2 linked regions of the Homo sapiens genome follow. The protein of the gene in region 1 interacts with the protein of each later gene in a biochemical or structural test. Each region holds a gene or a part of one and is shown in the gene's direction. Other genes may lie near its edges.

Region 1 (2,576 bases):
ATCAGTAATTCAGTAGACAAAACTTTTGTCTGAAAAATTGCTGTATTGAAACAGAGCCCTAAAATACCAAAAGACCAGGTAATTTTAACATTTGTGGAATCACAAATGTAAATTCATAAGAAGCTCTAATTAAAAAAAAAAAGTCTGAAGTATATGAGCATAACAACTTAGGAGTGTGTCTACATACTTAACTTTTGAAGTTTTTTGGCAACTTTATATACTTTTTTTAAATTTACAAGTCTACTTAAAGACTTCTTATACCCCAAATGATTAAGTTAATTTTAGAGGTCACCTTTCTCACAGCAGTGTCACTTGAAATTTAGTAGGGAAGGATATTGCAGTATTTTTCAGTTTCCTTAGCACAGCACCACAGAAAGCAGCTTATTCCTTTTGAGTGGCAGACACTCGACGGTGCCTGCCCAACTTTCCTCCTGAGTGGCAAGCAGATGAGTCTCAGTAATTCATACTGAACCAAAATGCCACATACACTAGGGGCAGTCAGAAACTGGCTGAGAAATCCCCCGCCTCATTCGCCCCTCTGCTCCCAGGAACTAGAGTCCAGTTAAAGCCCCTATGCGAAAGGCCGAATTCCACCCCAGGGTTTGTTATAACAGTGGCCAGTCTGAACCCCATTTGCTCGTGCTCAAAACTTGATTCCCACTTGAAAGCCTTCCGGGCGCGCTGCCTCGTTGCCCCGCCCCTTTGGCAGGAGAGAGGCAGTGGGCGAGGCCGGGCTGGGGCCCCGCCTCCCACTCACCTGCCGGTGCCTGAAATTATGTGCGGCCCCGCGGGCTGCTTTCCGAGGTCAGAGTGCCCTGCTGCTGTCTCAGAGGCATCTGTTCTGCAAATCTTAGGAAGAAAAATGTCCCTAGTAGCAAACGGGTGTCTTCTGTGCATAAATAAGTACAACACAATTCTCCGAAAGTTCGGGTAAAAAGAGATGCGGTAGCAGCTGCCCTGTGTGAAGCTGTCTACCCCGCATCTCTCAGGCGCTAAGCTCAGTTTTTGTTTTTGTTTTTGTTTTTTTAAAGAAAAGATGTATAATTGCAGGAATTTTTTTTTATTTTTTTATTTTCCATCATTCTATATATGTGATGGTGAAAGATATGCCTGGAAAAGTTTTGTTTTGAAAAGTTTATTTTCTGCTTCGTCTTCAGTTGGCAAAAGCTCTCAATTCTTTAGCTTCCAGTTTCTTTTCTCTCTTTTTCTTTGTTAGGTAATTAAAGGTATGTAAACAAATTATCTCATGTAGCAGGGGATTTTCATGTTGAGAGGAATCTTCCGTGTGAGTTGTTTGGTCACACAAATAACCCTTTCTCAATTTTAGGAGTTTGGATTGTCAAATGTAGGTTTTTCTCAAAGGGGGCATATAACTACATATTGACTGCCAAGAACTATGACTGTAGCACTAATCAGCACACATAGAGCCACACAATTATTTAATTTCTAACTCTCTGTGGTCCCTAGAAAAATTCCGTTGATGTGCTTAGGTTAAAGTTCTGAAGATACCCGTTGTACCCTTACTTGAAAGTTTCTAATCTTAAGTTTTATGAAATGCAATAATATGTATCAGCTAGCAATATTTCTGTGATCACCAACAACTCTCAGTTTGATCTTAAAGTCTGAATAATAAAACAAATCCCAGCAGTAATACATTTCTTAAACCTCACAGTGCATGATATATCTTTTCATTCTGATCCTGTGTTTGCAAAAATATACACATGTATATCATAGTTCCTCACTTTTTATTCATTTGTTTTCCTATTACCTGTAGTAAATATATTAGTTAGTACATGGAATTTATAGCATCAGCTACCCCCAGGAACAGCACCTGACAGGCGGGGGATTTTTTTTCAAGTTGTTCTACATTTGCATAAATTATTTCTATTATTATTCATGTATGTTATTTATTTCTGAATCACACTAGTCCTGTGAAAGTACAACTGAAGGCAGAAAGTGTTAGGATTTTGCATCTAATGTTCATTATCATGGTATTGATGGACCTAAGAAAATAAAAATTAGACTAAGCCCCCAAATAAGCTGCATGCATTTGTAACATGATTAGTAGATTTGAATATATAGATGTAGTATTTTGGGTATCTAGGTGTTTTATCATTATGTAAAGGAATTAAAGTAAAGGACTTTGTAGTTGTTTTTATTAAATATGCATATAGTAGAGTGCAAAAATATAGCAAAAATAAAAACTAAAGGTAGAAAAGCATTTTAGATATGCCTTAATTTAGAAACTGTGCCAGGTGGCCCTCGGAATAGATGCCAGGCAGAGACCAGTGCCTGGGTGGTGCCTCCTCTTGTCTGCCCTCATGAAGAAGCTTCCCTCACGTGATGTAGTGCCCTCGTAGGTGTCATGTGGAGTAGTGGGAACAGGCAGTACTGTTGAGAGGAGAGCAGTGTGAGAGTTTTTCTGTAGAAGCAGAACTGTCAGCTTGTGCCTTGAGGCTTCCAGAACGTGTCAGATGGAGAAGTCCAAGTTTCCATGCTTCAGGCAACTTAGCTGTGTACAGAAGCAATCCAGTGTGGTAATAAAAAGCAAGGATTGCCTGTATAATTTATTATAA
Region 2 (3,500 bases), on another chromosome or scaffold:
ATGCAGGGAGTATTGTCGCTGGAATCTAAGTGACCATTGAAGCAGTGAACATAGATTATGCTAATCTCATAAACTACAGCATCACAGTTTGAGATTTTAGTCTTTTTTTCTTTCTAATACCCATGAGTAGACAAATTACCACCTGCAGAATTTTAAACTTTTAACACTTTTTTATCTCCACGTTTAATTAACTGCTGGAGAGTAAAATTTAAGTACTTTCTTCCTTTCCGTTGAAATGTGTTATGGATGGAGGGGTGGGCATTTTTTAATCCTCTATACCAAGGATTGTAAACTATGGGCCAAATCAGGCCCGCCCACCTGTTTTTGTAAATGTGGAACATAGCCGCACACATTCACTTACAGTTATCTGTGGCTGTTTTCACATTCAGAGTTGGGTGGTATGACAGAGACTGTGTGGCTCTTAACAGAAAAAGTGTGCTAACCTGTGTTCTCTACTGTTCATTGTTGTTGTTGTTGTTGCTGTTCTTTTAATTTTTTTTTTTTTTTACCTTTTTTCCCTGCTTTCTGCATTCTTAAAATAGCCTTTCACGGCCCCCCATTAGTTTCATTTGAGTCTTGCCCTCAACGTGTTTCTCGTAAGCTGTAAACTGGGTAAATATAGCCATTCCCTAAAAAGAGTGGAGCCCTCCTGGGACAGGACACAGCAGCATCTTCGGAGGTTGCAGGGGTTATGACCATGTCACATCTTTGTCCCTTTCTTCTGTCACAGGGAACAAGTATTACCATGGAGCTCACTGCTTTCTATCATAACAACACACCCAGTTAGATTAACAAAATGTGAGAAAAATCCTAAGACACTATTAAGAGTTCTGTCCCCTACAGTGGGTTCCATCCTAACTTTGTGCAACTAAATGCCAAAAATGTAAGAATATTAAAGGAAACTTTGTTCTTACTGTTTGTTGTATGTGTATGTTAACTTTTCATGGTGAAACTTACTGTGCTTTAAACAGAAATAAACTTTACTTATTTTCTTTACTTTGTAATTTCTAGCCATGGTCTGAAAAAGTTCTTTTCTTGTCGTGGAATTGCAATTGCAGTTGAATATTTTTGGAAGCTTGGCAACAGAAACATCACTGTATTTGTCCCTCAGTGGAGAACAAGGCGTGATCCTAATGTCACAGGTGAGGCAAACTGATTTTTTCAGATTTCTAGTGAAATGTTTAATGAGTTGGCTTATAATTGCAACACATGCTATTTAGAATAGAGCTGTGTGCCATAGGCAGCGGCTTTAAAAATAAAATTGTAAATCTACTGCACCTAGCAAAACATCAATTGAAGAGAGTGCCACAGCATCACAAATACTAGGAGGTAGGATGGAAAGTTAACATAGTTATTTATACAGGAAGTTATATTAAGAGTTCATTATATATCACGTTTTCTTTTTACTTTCTAAAAAATGTCTTTTTATTAGGCTGGATTTCTGACTGTTTAGATAGTATTTTTGAAGTCACTTCATAAATTTGGCCCCTTCAAGTTACGTCTTTTTAACAGTCTATTTAAGGCTTAATATAAATCATTTCCGTTAACCATAAAGTACTCTGGCTGACTTGCAGGCCACACACGAAAGATTTGAACTTATTATGAATCATGAAATGTTCTAGAGAAACTTCAGGTTGTTTGTGTCATAGGTCATGATAGGAAGATAGGTGAAGGGGCTGTGCCAGGCAACTTAACACATCAGAGGGCCTGGAAAAATAAAGTAGATTGTGGGGAAGGAGGGTCAGTACAGGACTTGCCCAGCACATTAAACAGGAAGTGAAGTTTAGTCACTAGTGGGGCAGAAATGGTCAAACCACACAGTTCCCAAGTATTCCCAACTTCCCCCATTTTGAAGAGCATATTCATCTTAACAGAGGGTACATAAGGAATGAAGCAGATACACTCATTTTGTTATTTTTGCAATTGGATCCCTGAAGGAGTCTTTTTTTTTTTTTTTTTTTTTTTTTTTTTTTTTTTTTTTCTGAGACGGAGTCTCGCTCTGTCGCTCAGGCTGGAGTGCAGCGGCATGATCTCGGCTCACTGCAACCTCTGCCTCCTGGGTTCAAGTGATTCTTCTGCTTCAGCCTCCCGAGTAGCTGGGACTGCAGGCACGCACCACCACGCCCGGCTAATTTTTGTATTTTTAGTAGAAACGGGGTTTCATCATATTGACCAGGCTGGTCTCGAACTCCTGACCTTGTTATCCACCCACCTCACCCTCCCAAAGTGCTGGGATTACAGGCAGGAGCCACCACGCCCTGCCGAAGGAGTCTCTTAGTGCTTATGTGCTCTGCATTGCTTAAGTCAGTGGTGAGTACCATTGTAGGGAATGCAGGTGTGGGAATCTCAGGCCCTGAGCTTTTAGCTGCTTTTTCCCATTACTGGTTTTCTAAAATGTAGCTTTGACCCTCCATTCTCCACTGTCATCACCCACCCCCATGAAAACTGGCAAATATTTGTATGGACACCTTTGAGAATTTAGATAGGAGGCCAGTAGGAGGAGGCTTCAACAGACTCTTGGCATAGGGATCTTTCTTGTGGTAGAACCATTTGCCCCTCCTATCCCTAGATCTGCCCTAGCCTCACCCCTACCCTCTCTCAGGGTCTCTTATCATCCCTCTCTTTGTCCTCTACTTCTTGTAGTATAGCTCTGAAAGAGTTTTTGATGGTAGGCTTCATTAAATACCCAGGCTGGAGTGCAGCAGTGCCGTCTCAGCTCTCTGCAACCTCTGCCTCCTGGGTTCAAGCGATTCTCCTGCCTCAGCCTCCTGAGTAACTGGGATTACAGGCACGCGCCACCACACCTGGCTAATTTTGTATTTTTAGTAGAGACAGGGTTTCATCATGTTGGCCAGTCTGGTCTTGAACTCCTGACCTTAAGTAATCCACCTGCCTCAGCCTCCCAAAGTGCTGGGATTACAGGCGTGAGCCACTGTGCCTGGCCTACTATTCTTGAGAAGCAAATGAGTTTAATCTTATGTTTAAAAAATAACTGAAGTTAGTTCATATGTTGTTTTTGCCTTAGTATGGGTCTTGCTTGTTTTTTTTTTAATTCCTAGTGAGTTAGTAAAATTGAGTCAATAGAAAAAAGGTTTTCTACAGCTCTCCAAGTGAAACATTTGAGTGTACTTTCATTTCTTGATACATTTGGGAAGATAGCCCTTTTCTGAATGTATATTCAACTTATTCCATGAACAGAACAGCACTTCTTAACCCAGCTCCAGGAGCTCGGAATATTATCTTTAACTCCTGCCCGGATGGTCTTTGGAGAAAGAATTGCTTCTCATGATGACAGGTATGAAAGGCCATTCTCCTTCCTAAGGTTGGAGTGGGGTGGTGAGGAGCCAGCCACCTGCTCTGCTGGACAGGTCCACACTTTTAGAGGACCTGCTTGATGCAGTGGGTTTAATATTTATGGTCATTAAGGTGATATGCTCAGTGATATTTGCTACATAGTTTTTAGAAACACCACAGAAGAAACTCTTTGTGTTTTAGTAAAA

Evidence for each region.
Region 2: of the proteins of CDK6 (region 1) and N4BP1, one has a biochemical effect on the other in vitro, tested with the Homo sapiens proteins (one large-scale study listed by BioGRID and IntAct).

What each region holds. Positions count from the first base shown.
Region 1 is NC_000007.14:92,606,998-92,609,573, reverse strand, and holds part of CDK6 (cyclin-dependent kinase 6), read left to right. Parts: 3' UTR 1-2,576. UniProt on the Homo sapiens protein: Serine/threonine-protein kinase involved in the control of the cell cycle and differentiation; promotes G1/S transition. Phosphorylates pRB/RB1 and NPM1.
Region 2 is NC_000016.10:48,551,181-48,554,680, reverse strand, and holds part of N4BP1 (NEDD4-binding protein 1), read left to right. Parts: intron 1-1,011; coding exon 1,012-1,142; intron 1,143-3,198; coding exon 3,199-3,295; intron 3,296-3,500. UniProt on the Homo sapiens protein: Potent suppressor of cytokine production that acts as a regulator of innate immune signaling and inflammation.